3 linked regions of the Homo sapiens genome follow. The protein of the gene in region 2 interacts with the protein of the main gene of each other region in a pairwise test. Each region holds a gene or a part of one and is shown on either strand. Other genes may lie near its edges.

What was found. The genes of interacting proteins can lie anywhere in the genome.
Region 1: the proteins of NKAP (region 2) and DHX8 interact in binary tests that used the Homo sapiens proteins (3 or more experiments, as listed by UniProt).
Region 3: the proteins of NKAP (region 2) and NOS1AP interact in binary tests that used the Homo sapiens proteins (3 or more experiments, as listed by UniProt).

What each region holds. Positions count from the first base shown.
Region 1 is NC_000017.11:43,479,643-43,486,993, forward strand, and holds the start of DHX8 (ATP-dependent RNA helicase DHX8), read left to right. Parts: upstream 1-4,332; 5' UTR 4,333-4,395; coding exon 4,396-4,543; intron 4,544-6,755; exon of another isoform or gene 6,756-6,816; intron 6,817-7,351.
Region 2 is NC_000023.11:119,926,738-119,933,763, forward strand, and holds part of NKAP (NF-kappa-B-activating protein), read right to left. Parts: intron 5,480-7,026; coding exon 5,370-5,479; intron 5,275-5,369; coding exon 5,199-5,274; intron 3,429-5,198; coding exon 3,279-3,428; intron 1-3,278. UniProt on the Homo sapiens protein: Acts as a transcriptional repressor. Plays a role as a transcriptional corepressor of the Notch-mediated signaling required for T-cell development. Also involved in the TNF and IL-1 induced NF-kappa-B activation.
Region 3 is NC_000001.11:162,359,684-162,366,709, reverse strand, and holds part of NOS1AP (carboxyl-terminal PDZ ligand of neuronal nitric oxide synthase protein), read right to left. Parts: intron 3,728-7,026; exon of another isoform or gene 1,361-3,727; coding exon of another isoform or gene 1,307-1,360; coding exon 1,141-1,306; intron 1-1,140. UniProt on the Homo sapiens protein: Adapter protein involved in neuronal nitric-oxide (NO) synthesis regulation via its association with nNOS/NOS1. The complex formed with NOS1 and synapsins is necessary for specific NO and synapsin functions at a presynaptic level.

The sequences.
Region 1 (7,351 bases), on a different chromosome or scaffold from region 2:
CTCTAGCCTGGGCAACAGAGCAAGACACCATCTCAAAAAAAAAAAAAAAAAAAAAAAAAAAAAAGAAAAGAAAAAAGAAAAAAAGAAAAAAGATGAAAAACTGATAAATAAATATGAAAAAATTCCTTGCCATTTCCACAGAAGGTGGAGAGGCCGAGATGGGGGAATACCATTTTCTTGACAAGTTCATATCATAATGGTGTCTGGGTGCCTGGCTTTGTGTTTGTTTTTGCCTGACATTTTGAAGAGTCTTAAAATGCAAGAGAAATGGGAAACTTGACTATACCAAAAAAAAAATCTGCTTAGGAAGAACATTTTTTTTTTTTTTTTTTTGCCTAATACTATAAAGCCTTGGAGAATTTAGAATCTAAAGCATCTGTTATTGCTGATGGCAGGTTGATGGCCTAAAAAGAGAGGGAACTGTAGGTCAGGAATGTTTTGCGCAAAAATGAGGCTGCGCTTGGGTATTAGAAAATAAGGCAAACAAATAACAGATTGCAACAGGATAAACTGCCCTGTGAAGTAGACTTGCCCTCCAACCCCAATCTGCCTGCCCTCAGATGACGGTAAACAGACCAGCTTTTTTTTTTTTTTTTCTGTCTTCCAATCACCTGCCCTCATGTTTAGGCAGCAGAGATCTAAGTTATAAACACAGCTCTGCCAGGAGACCCCTTGGCTGAGAATGGCATTCAGAGTATTCTAGTTCTTCCTTGATGTTTTTCCACTTTCAGACCTCCTATCCTTTTTAGAACCTGCCACAGTGCCTGGTCACAAGGTTGAAGTTTAATACAAATTTAATAAGTTGGTCCAAATTTGGAGATGAATTCTGGGGAAAAGTCAAACAGTGAAAAATAAGGAATTTTACTTTCTCTGGGGGCTCCCAGGCTCTCTGGTTGGGTCAGGGCCCAAGTGGAGCAGGGAAGAAGGGGCCACTCTTTCTGAAGTCTCCCTGCATGAATGACAGTAACAGTTGAGTGGTAGTCATATGCTTAGAAGCAAACCATTCTGATTTTGCCTCCTAGAGCAGAGATGTCTCCCCTAAGATCCATTTTACCCCAGCAGAAAAGGCCAGGGTTGTCTGGGTTGTGGCAACACTGTTTTGACAGAAAGCCCTATGATTTTTCTCACAAACTTCCCTAAGGATGCTGTCTTTCAGCTACACGTACTTAGATAATTTCTTCTCCCTTACCAACTCAACCTGATGTTGCTAAGAGGTTCAGTACTTTCTCTCTGCTTTCTACCTCATCCCAACCCCCAAGTTCTTTCCCAAATTCCAGCAGCTGGGACCAGTCTCTGGGACAGAGCAGAAATAACATGGAAATCGGGGGTAGGGTTAAACACATCTATAAGTCTAGGAACAGGCAGAAAAGTAACATCCCTGTTACTACAAGTTTGGTATCAGGAAATAATTTCTTATCCATCATGAGTGGTGATATGGGTAGTATGAGCATAAGTTATATGTAGAGGTAAATTATTTACTGGGCTATTAAAGGGCCACATGGAGGCTGTCCAAGGAAAGTCATACAATAATAATGGAAATTTATTATTATTATTTTATTTTTTGAAACAGAGTATCACTGTCGCCCAGGCTAGAGTACATTGGCGTGATCTTGGCTCACTGCAACCTCCGCCTCCTGGGTTCAAGCAATTCTCCTGACTCAGCCTCCCGAATAGCTGGGACTACAAGTGTATGCCACCACGCCCGACTAATTTTTGTAGTTTTAGTAGAGTCGGGGTTTCACCATGTTGGCCGGGCTGGTCTCGAACTCCTGACCTCAGGCGATCTGCCTGCTTCAGCCTCCCAAAGTGCTGGGATTACAGGTGTGAGCCACTGCACCCGACCTAATAATGAAAATTAATTATATCTGATATTATGTTGAAAAATATTCTATCCAGAGGACAGTTCGGAAACATTTACTTTTGCACTGCGTTCGATTCACGGTCTCTTATGGGGAGGAAGAGTAGGAGGATTCCATGTGCATCTGTGTTTGGGCTGTCAAGTTATCTGTATCTACATAACTATTTGTTTTCCTTTGGCTTCAAAGAAATTTTTGGTGTTGCAAGAAATATGTATATTGCAGAAAAACTGTCACTTCTTAAAATGTGCAGTTAATGGCATATCTAAATAAAATGTAATGTTTTGCTGTTAATATTTACTATTGATATATATGTTCAATAATTCCCAAACAATTCTAACATTTAGTATTTATTAATTCTAGTATTTATTGCTACTACTGCTGCTACATGTTATGGTTCCATAGCCCCTATTCTGACAGAGCTTTGAAAACAAAACAAACTCCCTATCTGTTCCTCCTTCCGGTTAAATATTGGAGGAAAGCAGAATAGTAATATTAATTTTTAAAGAGAAAGAAGCACAGAGAATGAACATCAGATAGAATAAGCCCTTGAAATCGTAACTCCAAGCTGGCAAATTGAGCACATTGGATCAAGTGCAGAGTTTTCCATTCTATTCATGGGGAGAAAGAGGAAGCGAAATGGGGAGGGGTAGGAAGAACTCAGAGGGTTTAGTAGTGATTCCTTAGGAACCTGGAAACCTGGAGCTTCTGGAGACAGTGAGAACAATGGCTGGGTTTTTCTCTGCCTGTCATTTTTCAGTCCATGATGAGATGTTGAAGAAACAGAGTCCAAAGGTACACCAGTGTAAAAATGTTGCCAAAGTGAAAAGTGGGAGACTGATTTCCTCCTTCCGATTGATTGGAGAGCCATTCACTTTAGGGTGCTTCTGTTTCCTTACTCATCACACAGAGCACTGGAGTGTGGGAAAAATCCCCATCCCACATTAAGGTTGCCACAAAGGTAAAAAAGACCTGAAGCAGAAGTTGGGAGACCTGAGCTTATGACCTTGGACTTACAGCACAGCTGATATTTGGGGGAATAAGGTTTGTTGTTGTTTTTGTGTGTGTGTTTTGTTTGTTTGAGACGGAGTCTCACTCTGTCGCACAGGCTAGAGTGCAGTGGCGAGATCTCAGCTCACTGCAACATCCACCTCCCAGGTTCAAGCAATTCTCCCGCCTCAGCCTCCCTAGTAGCTGGGACTACAGGCACATACCATCACGCCCAGCTAATTTTTGTATTTTTAGTACAGACGAGGTTTCACCATGTTGGCCAGAGTGGTCTTGAACTCCTGACCTCAAGTGATCCGCCCGTCTCGGCCTCCCAAAGTGCTGGGATTACAGGGGTGAGCCACAGTGCCCAGCCCCTGGGGGAATAAGTTCTGAGAGGACACAGGAAAACTGGGGATTGAAAAGCAGGTTTTCACAAGAGTGGAGGCAGCTGGCTCTGTGGGTTCCCAGACTAAGGGGATCTGTGCTTGACAGACCAGAGGCCAGTTCTGTGACCATCATCTCAGCCTTGAATTTTTTTTTTTTTTTTTTTGAGACAAAGTCTCACTCTGTCGCCCATGCTGGAGTGTAGTGGTGTGAACTCAGGTCACTCCAACCTCTGCCTCCTGGGTTCAAGCGATTCTTGTGCCTCAGCCTCCCGAGTAGCTGGGACTACAGGCGCCCACCACCACCACGCCCGGCTAAGTTTTCTATTTTTAGTAGAGATGGAGTTTCGCCACGTTGGCCAGGCTGGTCTGGAACTCCTGACCTCAAGTGATCCACCAGCCTCGGCCTCCCAAAGTGCTGGCATTACAGGCGTGAGCCACTGCACCCGGCCTAGCCTTGTGATATTAACAGTAACTGTCATTTGCGGTGTGCCTACTCTGTGTCACACTCCTTGCAGTTATTCCATTTAGGGTAGAGCAACATTATTCTAGTTTACAGATGAGAAAACTAAGGCCCCAGAGATTGATTTGCCCAAGCAGCCAGCTGGCAGTGGAAGTGCCAGTTTCTTCGTGTGTAAAACAAGAGAAGGCAATCTACTGCCTACTGGCTTGTCAAGGGTCACTTGAGATCGGACGACAGGAACCACAAAGAAGTGAGGCCGGGAATTTGCGGATCCACAGTAAAGCAAGTTTGTCTTTTTCCAGACGTGCATTAAGATTCCTTTTTCAAGTGTTCTAAAGCGCAGGCGCAGGCTGTTTTGCGGTTGCCTCCCGGCGCCTCTTGTGCAGGCCGGGGTCGCCCTCTGCCGACCCAGGGCGGGAGCGCGCTGAGTGAACGTTTCCAGGCCTGAGGGCGGGCGGAGATTTTTCTCGCCTGTAGAGGGCGCAGATCGGCGTGCAGAGTAACCCACTCTAGTTGTCCCTTCCTTAAGCACTTCCTGTTTGATCTCTATGATCCATCCTGTTGGGACTTGATTCGTTCCTCAAATTTTCAATTTACCGTAAACAAAGGGGACGCGCGCTGACCCGGAAGTGAAAGCTGGAACCCGGCCGGAGTAGCTCTGAGCGCCGGCTGTGAGGAAGGAGGTTCTGGGCAAGCTATAGCCATGGCTGTGGCTGTAGCCATGGCGGGAGCCTTAATCGGGTCGGAGCCAGGCCCCGCGGAAGAACTTGCCAAACTCGAGTACCTGTCTTTGGTGTCAAAGGTTTGCACTGAGCTGGACAATCACTTGGGGATCAACGACAAGGACCTTGGTGAGCTCGGGGAGGTCCCTGGGACCTCAGTTTGGGATTGAGGGAAGCGGAAGGAGGAAGGAGGAAGGAGAAAGGTGGTTGATGGACCGAAAGTATGTTCGTGTGAATCTGTCTCTCTCTGTCGCAGACACCGGTGCCCAGGGTACACGCTGCCGTGGCCTCGGCTTGAGAGCCCTCGAGAAACTTTAGAAACTTTCCCAGAGCTGTCAGTGAAGCCCGGGGCGGTCATCTCTGCTTGATTGTTTTTTGTTTGTTTTTTCAGCCTCAATTAAACATGTTTAACAACAACAGCAGCAGATGCTGCGATGACGACGATGATGGCTGACGTTTATTGGGTGCTCACTATGTGCTAGATGCGATGCTCAGCTCTTTATTGACATTATTTTATTTGGTCTTCACGCCACTCTGTGACATAGTAGTTAGCGTCTGTGCTTTTAACTGTGTTCTTTGACCGTTCATCCTGTACTCTTTTTTGAGGCAGGGCCTCGCTCTGTTTCCCGGGCTGGAGTGCAGTGGCACGATCTCGGCTCACTGCAGCCTCCACCTCCTGGGCTCAAGCAGTCCTCCCACCTCAGCCTCCCGAGTAGCTGGGACTACAGGCGGGCGCCACCAAGCTCGACTCATTTTTAAATTTTTTGTAGAGACGGGGGTCTCACTGTATTGCCCAGGCTGGTCTCGAACTTCTGGGCTCAAGCAGTCCTCTTCCCTCGGCCTCCCAAAGTGTTGGGATTACAGGCGTGAGCCATTGCGTCCTGTACTATGTCTTAAACACCAGTCACTAGATGTTTTGGGGCAAACTACATCTGGGGAGCCGAAACTGAGGAATTAGAAAAGGCTAGGGTCCTAAAGCTAAAGCCATAGACAGATGGAGCCTTTATGAAGGTACAGAGGATGGATGGGATCAAGGGCAACCAATGGATGGATTGACCTTTGGTACGTACAGCAAGGCTTCTTCAGTTGTAACAGGAGCGAGGACAGAGAATACAGTTGCAGATTCAGATGAGTTTAGAGATTGGTGGTGGGAAGATGAGTGAGAGAGTTCCAGCCCACTCTTCAGTTTCCTAAATGAAGATAAAGTCATCAACCGGAGGGATGGAAGGGAAGGGGCAGGTGACAGGAGGGGTTAGGGAAGTTAGACGAGTGACCTTTGGTAAGATTCATAGTTTCTCTGAAGCTGTTTTTCTCATCTGTGAAGTGGGACGATGTCTTCACAGGGTCACCATATAGCATTTAGGAAGATGCCCTGCAGCCAGTATATTTTAGTTTACTTTTTTCTCTTGCCTCCCAGCCAAGATGTGTCTGTCCTATATAACTTTTCCCGCAGGATTCTTCTCTTTTAGTTGATAATGAGGTGATAATTTCGTCGGTTTTGCTATCTCGTTAATATGTTTCCTTTATTCAGCAAATATTGAGCTGGGGGCTAGGCATACCACAGAGAACAAGACAGATTTCTGCTTTCAGGGAGCTTACCTTTCTCTCTGTTTTCATTTTAACTCCTAATACCTTGGCCTTTTAGAAGAAACAAAAAAGTTATTGACATTAACCCCCAGTGTTTAATTGTTTTGATGTTAACTTCATTTGTGTACAAAAATAGAGCGAAGTATAAACTTCATAATCTTTTAGTTTATTTATAGCTAAAGATCTCAATTAATTTGCAGAAAACCCACAAATATGCTTTTTCTGTTACATACAGAATTATAAAACCAGTAACATTAAAAGTACTAACATTGGCTGGGTTTGGTGGCTCACGCCTGTAATCCCAGCACTTTGGAAGGCCAAGACAGGCCGATCCCCTGAGGTCAGGAGTTTGAGACCAGCCTGGCCAACATGGCGAAACGCCATTTCTACTAAAAAAAAAAAATACAAAAATTAGCTGGCCATGGTGACTGGTGCTATGCAGGAGGCTGAGGCAGGAGAATCGCTTGAACTCAGGAGACGGAGGTTTCAGTGAGCTGAAATCACATCACTGCACTCCAGCCTGGACGAAAAGAGCAAGACTTTATTTCAAAAAAAAAAAAAAAAAGTACTAATATTGGTTTAATGCAATAGACAGTGTCTTTTGTTGAAACTAAATTGGCAGAGTTGGGTTTAATAACAGAAAGGCATATATTTGCTTCTTTTATGTTTTGTTTGCTGACTTGATTCTTTTGCTTTTGACCCTGATGGATGACTTATTAATTTATGTATTTAATTTTTGGGAGAGTTGAGATAGTAGAGTTTCCGATGAAAACTGGAAAACCTGCTAGACAAATTCTAAAAGAACTGTAATACTGGATTATCATTTAAATTAGTGTTATTTTTACTGTTTTCACCAATGAATTTTTTTAAACTATAAATTAATTTTTTATAATGGATTCAGTTAATTTAACAATTCCCCTGTATAATTGTGAAAATTAAAAATACTGATTAATGGGACCAGGCGCAGTGGCTCACACATGTAATCCCAGCACTTTGGGAGGCCAAGGCGGGTGGATCACGAGGTCAGGAGTTCGAGACCAGCCTGACCAACATGGTGAAACCCTGTCTTACTAAAAATACAAAAATTAGCAGGGCGTGGTGGTGCACGCCTGTAATCCTAGCTACTCAGGAGGCTGAGGCAGGAGAATCACTTGAACCTGGGATGGGGAGGTTGCAGTGAGAGGATCGTGCCACTGCCCTCCAGCCTTAGTGACAGAGCAAGACTCCGTCTCAAAAAAAAAAAAAAAAAAGATTACTGATGGCTGGCAGTGAGAATGTGCTTCAGACTGCTTTGGGAGGGGCTCTTTTGAGCATGACATGCCTAGCACCATGGGACTTAGTTCTCCCTCC
Region 2 (7,026 bases):
CAAGGTTCTACTTTACCATAAAACCAAAAGAACCAAGTCTAGGCTGGGCATGGTGGCTCACGCCTGTAATCTCAGCACTTTTGGAGGCTGAGGCAGGCAGGTCACCTGAGGTCAGGAGTTTAAGACCAGCCTGGCCAACGTGGTGAAACCTCGTCTCTGCTAAAAATACAAAAATTAGCTGGGTGTGGTGGTGGGCACCCGTAATCCCAGCTACTTGGGAGGCTGAGGCAGGAGAATCATTTGAACCCAGGAGGTGGAGGTTGCAGTGAGCTGAGATTGCGCCACTGTACTCCAGCCTGGGAGACAAGAGTGAAACTAGGTCTCAAAAAAAAAAAAAAAAAAAAAAGAACCAAGTCTAAATCTGTAATTGAACAGCAGTTTTTATCAGTGGATTTAACTTCCAAGTCTCCCTCTGTCACCCAGGCTGGAGTGCAGTGGCATAATCTCGGCTTATTGCAACCTCCGCCTCCCAGGTTCAACCGATTCTCCTGCCTCAGCCTCCTATTTCATGTACTGAATAGTTCTTTCTTTCCCCATTGATCTGACATGCTATCTCTTTCATACACTGAAGTTCCATACGTGTATGGTTATCTTTGGGCTCTGAATTTTATTTTATTTTTTTTTGAGATAGTGTTTTGCTCTTGTTGCCCAGACTAGAGTACAATGGCGAGGTCTCAGCTCACTACAACCTCCACCTCATGGGTTCAAGCGATTCTCCTGCCTCAGCCTCCCAAGTAGCTGGGACTACAGGCACTAGCCACCACGCCCAGCTAATTTTTGTATTTTTGGTAGAGATGGGGTTTCACCATGTTGGCCAGGCTGGTCTTGAACTCCTGACCTCAGGTGATCCACCCGCCTCAGCCTCCCAAAGTGCTGGGATTACAGGCATGAGCCACCACGCCCGGCCTGAATTTTATTCCACTGAACAATTCAGTTGTTCTCCTATGCTTTCTAAAGTGCTGTAAGCTTCATAATAAGTCCTCCTATTTGTAGGGGAAATCTTACCTTCCTGCTCTTCTTTTTCAGGAGTGACTTGGCTATTCTTGTCCTTTTAGTCTAGTATATAAATTTTAGAACTGGCTTATTAAGTTTCATGAAAAACTGTGTTCTGATTTTGATTGGGACTGTATTGAATATAAAGATCAATTTGGGAAGAAATGACAACTTTACAATATTGCCTTCCTATCCGTGAACCTGGTATCTCTCCAGCTATTTAAGTTTTCTTTAATCTTACCTTCTTGCTCTTCTTCTTCAGAAGTGACCTGGCTATTCTTGTCCTTTTAGTGTAATATATAAATTTTAGAACCAGCTTAATAAGTCTCATAAACAACTGTGTTGTGATTTTGATTGGAACTATATTGAAGATATGGACTCTTAATGTCTTACATTTTTCCCCATAGAACCTTGGGCATCTTTTGTTAAGATTTATTCTTAAGTCTCTCATATTCTGACACTGTTATAAACGTTCAAGGTTCTAGGTTTCTGTTGTTAGTAAATAGAAATGCAGTTCATTTTTATTGGAACTGTATTGAATACACAATCTCTTAATAATGTTTTATAGTTTTCCTCACAGAGCCCTGGGCATCTTTTGTTAAGATTTATTCTGAAGTCCTTCATATTCTCTGATACTATTACAAATGTTTTCTTCTTATTTAGTTACATTTTCTAGTTGTCTGTTGCTGGTAAATAGAAATGCAATGGATTTTTGTGTACTAACCTTATATCCAACCAGTTGTTAAACCCTCCTCTCATTTATAATTTATCTGGAGATTCTTTGGGATTTTCTATGTAAACAATCAAATCATTCACCATGTCATTCACAAAAAAATGACATTTTTTTTTTAAGACGGAGTTTCACTCTTGTCACCCAGGCTGGAGTGCAATGGCACGATCTTGGCTCACTGTAACCTCCTCCTGGATTCAGGTGATTCTCCTGCCTCAGCCTCCTGAGGAGCTGGGACTACAGGTGTCCGCCACCATGCCCAGCTAATTTTTGTATTTTTGGTAAAGACAGGGTTTCACCATGTTGGCCAGGCTGGTCTTGAACTCCTGACCTCAGGTGATCCACCCAACTATGCCTCCCAAAGTGCTGGGATTACAGGCGTGAGCCACCACGCCTGGCTAAAAAATGACATTGTTATATCGCCCTTTCCAATCCTTATTATTATTATTACTGTTTTTTCAGGCTGAGTTTTGCTCTCCAGGCTGGCATGCAGTGGTGTGATCTTGGCTCATTGCAACCTCCGCCTCCTGGGTTCATGCGATTCTCCTGCTTCAGCCTCCTGAGTAGCTGGGATTACAGGTGTGTACCACCACGTCTGGCTAATTTTTGTGTTTTTAGTAGAGAAGGGTTTCGCCATGTTGCCCAGGCTAGTCTTGAACTCCTGGACTCAAGTGATCTGCCTGCCTTGGCCTCCCAAAGTGCTGGGATTACAGGCATGAGCCACCGTGCCCAGCCTTCCTTTCCAATCCTTGTGTCTCTAATTTCTTTTTCTTGCCTTACTGTGTGGGTCCTCCAATGCAATGCTTCAAATATTGGTCCTCAGTATTACAAGATTCTGGAGGTGCTTCAGGGTTTCTGCAAATATTTGCCTTCAGTGTCATTTAAAAATAGTTATCTACTTAAAAAAAAAGTTTATCAAGTTTTAAAGAATCCAAAATTCAATTTGATCTAAGTACTGCTGCCCTATTTGCTCATTCTCCTGGTTCTTCCTGGAACTTTTCTCTTTCCTAATTTTATATTCATTTCCCATGCTGAATCCAGTGTCTTTTTAAAATTTATTTATTTATTCATTTATTTATTAGCCAGGATATATTCTCAGCTGACCAATGTCTTTTATCATCTTTTTCTGTTATTCAGTCTCAGAAATCTGGGTCCATAAAAAACTGAAGACAAACTTGTAACCAGGAAACACTGTCTTGTGAAAATATTTTCCTAACTGCCACATTCCTCATGGGGCAGTGATAAATAGCTGAATTTAACTATATCCTCCAGTGGATAAAATATCTGTAAGCAAATACCAACTAGGAAAGGACATTAGGAAGATTGATTCTTTGAAGTCAGAGATATAGCTGAGTTTGAGGCTGAGTTGCATATATACTTGGAATTGCAGAAAACCATGTTATACTAACAACACTAATATCAAACCAATATTTATACTCTACTTTTCATAAGAAACAGTCACTTAATGAAAATCAATTACCAAAATATAATTCTGGTAGTAAAAAAGAAGAAAAAGATCTAATCATGGAAACTGAGCTTAATGCCAACAACATACCTGCTACCACTCATTACATAACCTGAGCATTCAAATGATGCAATTTCTTCACTTGTCAAGCCAATTTCACCTCTTCGTGGGATACGTTTTCCAGCTTTTACATATTCAGCCATAGCTGCACCTTCACCAGGTAACAGAGCATGGCCATAGCTACAAAGTAATTCAGAATTCAGAAAAGGTCCATTAAATCATCTTAATATTAAAAGCTTATAATCTAAAGAGAGCACCAAAAATCCCCACATTTTCTCTCAAACAAGAGTAGGAATAACAGTGCTCAGCAGTAGTGTGCTAGGAAGCTCAATGTGAATTGCTTTATCCTAATTAGTGTATTAAACATTGCATTGCACTATGACCTATACAACTAACCCAGAAATGCAGAAATATTTTGAAAGAAAAGAACTGCTGTGAGTATAGATTCACAGTTTACAATTATGGATTAATTTATCCCTACAGGTATTGTCATTACTGGTTCTGGCTCCAGCTGATTCCCTTTCCCTTTTTCCCTTAAAAAATCCAAAGTATGCCAGGCACAGTGGCTCACGCCTACAATCTGAACACTTTGGGAGGCTGAGGCGGGAGGATCACCTGAGATCAGGAGCTTGAGAGCAGCCTGGCCAACATAGCGAAACCCCGTCTCTACTAAAAATACAAAATTAGCCGGGCATGGTGGTGCATGCTTGTAGTCCCAGCTACTCAGGAGGCTGAGGCAGGAGAATCACTTGAACCTGGGAGGCAGAGGTTGCAGTGAGCCGAGATCGTGTCACTGCACTCCAGCCTGGGCGACAGAGTAAGGCTTTGTCTCAAAAAACAAAACAAAACAAAACAAAAAAAAAAAACAAAGTAGGCTGGGTGCAGTGGCTGACGCCTGTAATCTCAGCATTTTTGGAGGTTGAGGCGGGCAGATCACTTGAGATCAGGAGTTCGAGACCATACTGGCCAACATGGCGAAACCCCAGCTCTACTAAAAATACAAAAATTAGTCCGGGCGTGGCGGCAGGCGCCTGTAATCCTGGCTACTTGGGAGGCTGAGGCAGGAGAATCACTTGAATCTGGGAGGTGGAGGTTGCAGTGAGCCAAGATCATGCCACTGCACTCCAGCCTGGGCAACAGAGTGAAACTCAATCACACCACTGTGCTTCAGCCTGGGAGACAGAGTGAGACTCCATCTCAAAAAAACAAAACAAAACAAACAAAAAAAAAATTCTAGACCAGGTGCGGTGGCTCACGCCTGTAATCCCAGCACTTTGGGAGGCTGAGGCAGGTGGATCATGAGGTCAGGAATTTGAGACCAGCCTGACCAACATGGTAAAACCGTATCTCTACTGAAAATACAAAAAAAAATTAGCTGAGTGTGGTGGCGCGTGCCTGTAATCCCAGTTACTCAGGAGGCTGAGGCAGGAGAATCGCTTGAACCTGGGAGGCAGAGGTTGCAGTGAGCCAAGATCACGCCACTAAACTCCAGCCTGGGCAACAGAGCGAGACTCCGTCTCACAAAAAGAAAAAAAAATTCTGCTGGTAAAAAAAGAAAAAAGAGAAAAAAAGGAATAAAAAATTCTGTGAGGATCAAAGAGAAACAGAAATCACACCTACTTGTGGAGGGGAAGTATTGGGAATCAGCATATGCATCTCCTTTTGAAAAGGGCTTCGAAGGATAGTAAGGATTTTAACAGGAAGAAACTGGCGATAGGGAAGAAAACAGAGGGCAGGGAAAAGAAGGGAAGGCATACTGGATGAAGAAATAAGCTGAACATGGCATAAAAGTTGCAAAGTGCACATTAAGCCCAGGGAATATTTAGTAGTCCAGCTCAGCTGGAACCTGGAGTAGAAATAAGGGAATAGAGTCAGATAAGCTTGGCAAGGTAAGTTAGAACCAGACTTTTTGGTAGGTACTTTAGATATTATAAACACACTGCTGCTTACTTCAAAGGTTTATCATCTTGAGAGGTAAGTGTTTTTGGAGCCTCTGGGCCAATTAAATCTGATGGTTCTTCAGCCTCTGCATGAAAGATATTAAGAAACACATTCACATTCTGACTAATTGGTTACTTTAATGTTTCATCTGTTCTGAGTTAGTCTATCAGAAGAACCTACTTGTTCGATCCTTCCAGGGATTTTCCAGAAACTCTTCTTGGGATTCTTTAGAGCTTGAATCACTGGACTCTTTTCTGCTCTTCTTAGACCTCTTTTTCTTATATTTCTTCCTATAGGGATTTTAATTTGATACAAATTCACTTAATCTTCCTATGTTAGAGGGCATCTTAATTTTTCTTTTCTTTTTAAATTTTGAACTGGTGACTATACATCTTAATTTTTCAAGGCAAAGAAAGGTGACAATAAAATGATCTGAATTCCCAGCTTATTCAAACTTACAAGATAATTTTACTTAAAAAAATCTGCTTCTAACTGAACCTGGGAAACAGAGCAAGACCCCGTCTCTATTAAAAAAAAAAAAAAGTAGCTGGGTGTGATGGCACACATCTGTAGTCTAAGCTATTCAGGAGGCTGAGGCGGGAGGATCACTTGAGCCCAGGAGTTCGAGGCTGCAATGAGCTATGATTAGCCCACTGCACTCCAGTCTGGGCAACAGAGCGAGACACTGCCTCTTAAGAATTTTTTTAAAAAGTATTCTAACTTATTTAACCAAATCATCTTTTGCTATAAAAATTATCACTAAAGGAGGCTGGGTGTAGTGTTTCACCCCTGTAATCCCAGCACATTGGAAGACTGAGGCGGGTGGGTCACTTGAGCCCAGGGGTTAGAAACTAGCCCTGGGCAACATGACGAAACCGTGTCTCTACAAAAAATACAAAAATTAGCCAGGTGTGGTGGCACACGCCTGTAGTCCCAGGTATGGGGAAAGTGGGGGCAGAGGTGGGAGGATGGCTTGATCCTGGAAGGTTGAGGTTGTAGTGAGCTGTGATCGTGCCACTGCATTCCAGCCTGGGTGACAGGGTGAGACACGGTCTCAAAAAAAAAAAAATTCACTAAAGGGAACAATGAAATACAGTTCTGATGTTGTAGAAAGACAACAGAAATAAAACAGCCTAAAAAGTCCCAACAATTTGAACATTATGAATAATTTTATGTGTAATGGATTAAAATATGTCAAATATGTTTAAATCCTTGGGTTAATAATACTTTTTAAAAATCCAATTCATTATTTGAAAAGTCATTAAAACAAAAAAAATCAAGCAATTATCCTGCTCTTACAATATAAACTATATTTCAGGGTATCTAAATAGTTGATGAGGGTAAGTTTCTCTTATAGAATCATTCTGCCTAATAAATGAAGGATAAAGCCAGGATTAGACTATCACCATTTTACAACCCCTAATGAAATAATGGATCGAGATAATGACCATCAATGGCTGTTAATATGACAAAAAGTGACAACCAGACATTATTTGCCTCCTGACAGTAAACAGCACCACTTATGAAGTATTCTTGCCCCAACTCAAATCTGAGCCTTCTCAGGCCTCTAGACCTATTAATCTATTGGAAATACAGAGGACAGAACATGCCAAAGAATACCATAAGAATACGGTCACTGCAATTTAGGGACATTATTTGGATCCTGATTGGAATAAACTACAGAAAAAACTGCTGAGAATAGAGGAATTATTATTAAATGTTTTAGGCACAATAATAGCATTCTGGTTATGGGTTTTTGTTTTTTTTTTAAATATAGAGACAGGATCTCGCTATGTTGCCCAGGCTGGTATTGAACTCCTGGGCTCAAGCGATCCTC
Region 3 (7,026 bases), on a different chromosome or scaffold from region 2:
CAATCATGTAAATAAGCATTAATTAGGATAGAGCAGAGTTTCAATGAACAATCTGGAAAATCCAGAGAGGCTTCCAGAGTGGTGAAGGGCACTGGTTTCCAATCCACACCTCTGGGCTACTTTAAAAATACAGGCTCCCAGACCAGCCCTAGACAGAACGATGTAGGATCTCAGTAGGAAAGACGCATTTTTAAAAGAGCTCATGGGATGGTTTGGGGGAACCACTGGTATAGTTGGAACAAAATTTTGCAATCAGATCTAGGTTTGAATCTTGGCTCTGCTCCTTGCTAGGCCTATAACCTTGAGCTAGTTACTTAACCTCCCTGAGTCTGTTACCTCATCTGTAAAATGGCATCCCATTTTTCTGCAGCAGAACTACAGGGATTAAATGAGCTCACAGGCAAAAAATTCTATCACAGTTTCTGGCACAATATGTGATCAATGGCTATTTGCTGGTCCACAGCCCACACACACTCTGAGCATGCAAACAACCCACGGAAAGGCTCAAGAGGAAGGCGTGAAAATGTGTTGCGATCTACAGCTGCCCAGCCCAGCCCAGGGGTACTGAGTGTAGAGACAGCTTCTCAAGCAGGGGCCAGGCAACCTCTGCTATTGCCCAGCAGAGCAGTGCAGCCAGATTCCACTGCCTTATCCACTGAACAGATATACTGCTCCCAGCTTTTTCTGTGTGACAGAGTCTTGAAATACATAGTGCAGAGTAGTAAACTAAGAAACAATCTGCTGTCTCCCACAGAGCTCACAGAGACCATGACACCCAATAGGTGCCAAGTATACTGTTTGTTGATTGCAAAAGCTCTCTGAGAAAGAAATGGGCTGCCCTAGAACACAGAGTACCTGAGCCCCTATCAAATAGAGACTGGATGAGCACATAGCAGTGACTCCGGGGACATTCAAAGTCCAGCCCTGGGCCTGGATTAGAAGGCACCCGAGATCTCCTTTGGGCATGTGATTCTGTAATTCATTAAGTATACTAATGGGAAAACAAAGCTGCCTATGTTTTCTGCTGGAATATAGGGGTAGGTCAGGGGTCCAAGAAAGCACCACCAAAAACTTAAGGAAAGTGACACTCTTTCCAGAGCCTTCACAGAGGAAGCAGGGCTGGGCAGGGCACTGGCTTACTGGCGTTCTGTCCTGACAGCTTCAGTTCCAGCTCTTGCACCTGCTTGACCAGCAGGGAGATGTGCTGGAGCATGTCCTTGTTCTGCAGCAAAAGCTGATGCACGCGAGCCTGGGCCTCCAGCCGCGCCGCAGCCTCAGCAGCCAACTGGTCCTTCAGCAAGTGTACCTGCAGAGAAGAGGCAGCGGCAGAGAAGACAGGACAGAGAGAAGAGAGGGACATGAATGCACATGAGAGTCACTGGCAGATGGCCGGGACCAGAGATGCCCTCCACATTCAGTTCAAGAAGAAGCCCTTCACGGGCAGCATGGGCATCTGGGCTTATCATTCCAGAGGAGGAGCCAAAAGGAGTGGGTTCACTGGCACTGCGAAGCTGTGTGTCCTAAGGGAGGGCCATGATGCATCACTAAGGTACCCATACCAAGGGCAAGAGGCAGGAAAGAGCCATCGACCCTCTAGACCTGCCACACACACACACGTACACACACACGTGCACATATACACACACACACGCACGGTGCTCCATCCCTGCTTAGAGAACTCCTTCAGCACCTAGCATGGCATGCCATGTTGGAGGTGGAAGGGGGCACTCTCTTCTCATCCTGTCTTCTAAAAAACAAAACCAAAACTCATCTATTGACCCACTGGCTAAGAACAGTGTCACAACGAAGCCCATATAATCTTTCTCCCTCTCCCACTCACCCAAACATAGTGAGAAATAGGAAGCACTACACATGGCTTTTTAAATTAGTGAGGCAGCTGTCATCAAGCCACTCTGTAGGCGACAGCTTCTTTCCCTGTCTTCCTTTTTTATTTGCTATGGCAGACATCTAGGACCATGATTCATACCACATATTACCAGGACCACCTGGTAGGGGTCAAACATTTGCTGACTGATTCATGAGAGGGCCTCCTCCAACCAGCCCAGAAGGGCTGAGGTGAACAATTTGTGGCACCCTCATCAGTTTCCAACCTTCTTAAGGCAGAGCAGTTGGCAGCAATGCATTCAGCATGCTTGAGGCCCAGTGGTGTCAACAGCTCTGTTCTTGGTGAGCAATACTTATGTGGAGATAAAACTCAGTGGGAGGAGACAGGGGCAACCAGACCAGGACCCTGGTTTGAAGAAACTGAGTTAGAAGGCCAATACCAGTGTTCACACATATGTGATTCTTGTGCAAAGAAGTGAATAAAGAGTTCTCCAGGGAGCATTTCAGAAGGCCCCTGAAGAAAGGGAACTAATGAATTTTTATGGCCTGGACCAATGTAGCTTATGGGGAAAAGGGTGTTCTTGTACCAAAACCATGGTGTGGGTAAAGACAGAGCCAGGTGAGTGGGGGCAGGAGAGGTGGGACGAGGATGCAGGAAGATGGATGGGGAGTCAAAAGCATTAGCTGATTCCCTTGCTCAGAAAACAAGTGCTCAAATTTCTGAAGAGGAGTTTGCTCCAAAGAGATTCACATTTTTTTAGGGAGTAAAGGGCAGTGCTACCTCACAGTTGGCCACCCTTGGCCAAGTGACTTGCTGGCCCAGGGTGTGCCCCTCCCAGCAACCAGCACTCAGAGAATTACACTTGTGGATACCGTGGCTGCCTCCCTCTTGCCCAGATTGGAGGCCCTGACCTTGCCGTTGACCCTATTTCTGATTGAGTGGAGCCACAGGGGCATAATGCCTAAGGAATTTAAACTAAATCTGTCCTCCATAAAGCTGCTAAGGACAGAACTGATATTTTGGTCAAGAAGTCAGACTCATTTTTTTGTCTCATATTAATTGAGAGAAGATCTGGGGAGGGGTGAGAACAGGTGTGATACAGTGAAATACATGTTTGGTCTTCATCCCTGTTTCCTGACATATAGCTCCCCAAACCCTTGAGATCTCCAGAGTGGTAAGAGTGTTTTTTGTATGCTTATTAGATGATTAGTGGTTGGGGAACCCCTGGAAGCTTCGGGATGGGGGCTGCTCACAGGACAGACCAAGGTATGATTAGAGGATAGGATTTTTCAGTCCCACGCCCCAACCTCCAGGAGATGAGGGGCTAAAAGTTAAACTAATCACCAGTGGCCAATGATGTAATCAATCATGCCTACATAATAAAGCCTCCATTAAAAACTCAAAAGGACTGGGTGTGGGGAGCTGCCGGGCAGCTGAACATTTAGAGGTTCCTGGAGGGTGGTGCACGTTGGGAGGGCATGGGAGCTCTGCCACCCTTCCCACAGACCCTGCCCTATGCATCTCTTCCATCTGGTGTTCATTGGTATCCCTTATAATATCCTTTAAAATAAACCAGTAAATGTAGGTGTTTTCCTGAGTTCTGTCAGTTGCTCTAGCAAATCAGTTGAGTCCAAGGAGAGGGTAGTGGGAACACCAATTTATAGCCACTTGGTCAGAGGTGTAGGTGACAAACTATTACTTGTGATTGGTGTCTGAAATGGGGGAAAGTCTTGTGGGATTGAGCCCTCAAACTGTGGGATCTGATGCTGTTTCCAGGTAGATAGTATCAGAATCAAACTGAGTTAGAGGACACTGTGTGCCCTCTGCAGAACTGCTTGCTTGCTTGGTGTGTGGGAAAAAGCCCCATACATTTGGTCATAGAAGTATGTTGTGACAGTATAGCAGGAAGAAACTGAGTTTGTTTCTTCCTATATCCACTCAACAGGGAAAGAAATGTCAATAATATTGTAATCTGGATGTCAGATGGTGGGTGGCTATTAAGGTTTTCTCCTCTTTGGAAAGGGAGGCATGGAGAAATTTCAGCTGGGGGTCCCCCAAATCTATTTGGTTCTAAGGAACAGGACAACTGCTATGGGAAGCCCACAGATAAGCCTCAGAGAAGGGTAAGCTTAATCTTGCACTTATGAGTACCGTTACTTATCCCAACAAAGAGTGGCATCGAAAGGAACCTACTGAGCAAATAAAATTACTAAATTATTCATCTTCCATTTTCTTTGGAACCAAACCAACCAGAGAGAAATGTGGAACAAAGTCTTTCAGCAGATATAAACAAAGAAAGTAGAGAATCCTGCATACCTCTAACTGGCACTTATTGAGGGCTCTCTGCACACATACTGCAGAGTCAGTTTCTTTTCTTTTCTTTTCTTTCTTTCTTTTTTCTTCTTTTTTTTTTTTTTTTGAGACTCACTCTGTCACCCAGGCTGGAGTGCAGTGGAATGATCTCAGCTCACTGCAACCTCTCCCTCCTGGGTTCAAGCGATTCTCCTGCCTCATCCTCCCAAACAGCTGGAATTACTGGCGCCCGCCACCACACCTAGCTAATTTTTGTATTTTTAGTAGAGACGGGGTTTCCCCATGTTGGCCGGGCTGGTCTCAAACTCCTGACCTCAAGTGATCCACCTGCCTCGGCCTCCCAAAGTGCTGGGACTACAGGTGTGAGCCACCATGCCCAGCCCAGAGTCAGTTTCCTGCTTTCCAGTCTGAACATCCCAACAGGACAGGCCATTTGAATGCACCAGACCAGGAGCTGGAGTGCTTGTCTGTTGGGTACTCCCTAGGCAGTTGTAGACAACTCACTTCTCTCTGGACCTCAGTTTCTCCATCTGTCAACCGAGAGGACTGGCTTGAGGCTGAGACAGTTGATAATTCTACATCCAGGTTGACATTGTGGTCAGTACTGGAGGCAATTTGTTAATGGCTCATTGAAGAAAACTCTCAGTTCCCCATTGTGAAGTCAGAATTAGAATTGAGGGTGAAGGAAAAGTCCCCTCTTACAGAAGCCAGGAAAAAAATTGAAAGCTTTTTTTGCAGGTACCCAAGTTCAATGGTGGAGTACCAGCAATACCTAGAAGAAGACCTTTGACTCAAATGCTTCCCATCGCAGATCCATTGGCACCAAGTGCCATGAGAAAATGCTCCTTGTACCAGATTAAATAAGAGTTTTACCTCTGTAAACCCAGTTACACTATTTCAGGTATTTTCAAGTCCTGTGAATATGTGAGCACCCACTGCTGCTACTGCCTGAGCCAGCACTAATGAGCCCTCTGCTTCTGCAGCTGTCAAAAGTGGTACTGGGCATAAGGCTCAAACCTCAAGCTGTGGCAGGCTGTGCTGCAGGAGAACCCAAACCAGGCCATACTGAGACAAAATAGCCTGGACTTCTTTTAACTTTGAGGTGCAGCATTTTATAACTATGTAGGCTCGAACTTGAAGCACTGAAACGAGGCAGCGTTACGTGAAACCTTGGTTTGGGCAGTCTGCTACAGCCCTCTGTGCTTTGTTTCCCCATTCATACAACAGGGGCAGAGAGCACCACCTCCTCCCCACCAGATGGGATTTTTTTTTTGTATTTAGCATGCTTTTCTTTCAAAGAATTAAGCCCCTTTTGTAAAAGTAGACCATATTTCTTTCTGGAAAGGTACAAATTAGTGTCTCCTTTGCAGAACTGTGTTGTCTTTGGCAATGAATGTTGTACTTACATACTAAGTCAGTGATGTGGCACAGAGTGATGTGACACTACGGCCACGTCCCGAGTGCCAGGGCTCAGATGTCCAGCTCTGCACTCTGGCCTCATCATGACACACAAAAGTTCAGCCCTGCACCCTCCAGCTCTACACTGCTTTCCCAAACTCTGAAACCCACCCTCAACCCACCCAGCCACACCAGACCATTGGCGCCCTCACTCTCCAGCTTACTTGCCTGGACTCCAGCTCCTCCATCAGAAGTGAGGGCAGGGCCAGGCTGAAGTTAGGGAGTAGCAGGCACATGGAAATGGCAGTGGAGAGAACCAGAGCAATTTGCCCCACCACACACTGGACACAGAAGCAGAGGCAGGCGCCGCTGTCTCAGCATGCACATGGCAGGGACTTGGGCAGTGCATGCCAGCGTGCTGGGGACTGGGAGAAGCCACAGGGACATATGCTAAATAGAGGGCCTGGGGTGGGGATGCGGAGTTTTGTTAGCACTGTTCCTCTAACTACAGCATACATGATTGCGAAGCATAAATAACCAATTCCTTGTTCCTGAACAAACAGAAGTGGCAGCAGGTAGAGGAGAAATCTTTAAATAGCAATACTGAACTGTACTAACACTTTCCTCAGGAAAAAGGCTGGGAATTGGCAAACTGTGAATAGACCTGGCCTACTTAACACTTGCCAATCAGCCACAGTGCCCAGATCAGTTCTGAGACTATGTCGGCCCAGCCCATGGCCATGCAGGTGCCAGCTACATCCCAGCTTCGCTTCGAGGCTTAGCTATACTCTCATTCACACCCTTGAACTTCTGGTCCACCTAAAAGCAGGAAGCTAGTGCAGCCAGGCAAGCCTCATGCTGGGTCGGAAGAGCGGTCAGAGGGACTTGGGTATTCACTACTTACCCACTGAGGTCTAACCCGGAAATACTTAAGAGTTGGTTGAATACCACCTTTGCCCATATACCTTTAAGGTCAGGGCGGGCCCCTTTGAGACCAGCTCAGAACCAATTTAGGGTGAGGCTGGGAGAGGTCTTGCGGTCTTAGACCAAATCAGGACACTGTGAAGGAAACCTAAGCCTGGTCCCCATGGCAACAGCAGAACTAGACTAGTCTGTGGGAAGAAATGGGGGTGGTGGGGGGGGGACGACATAAATAGTGCAACAAGTGACATCAAGGGTACACTTGTCTGCAAGAAACTGTCTTTATCCTTAGATTTTTATCCAGGAACAACATAGGAGGATTTGGATGCTCTCCGAGAGAAGGAAACTATTCCCACCTGAAAGGCTGAGGTCATAGTTTTACTCACTGGAATTCTGGGGACTGCTGGTAGTTTAATAAAGACAGACAGAAGCCTTGCAGTTTGGTGGCAATAGAGTCTGACAGAACAAGTAAGAGCTGACCTCGTGCTGGAAACTGAAATCAGCCCCCCCCCGCGTAGAGAAACCAAGCTTGCTATACTTGGTCTATT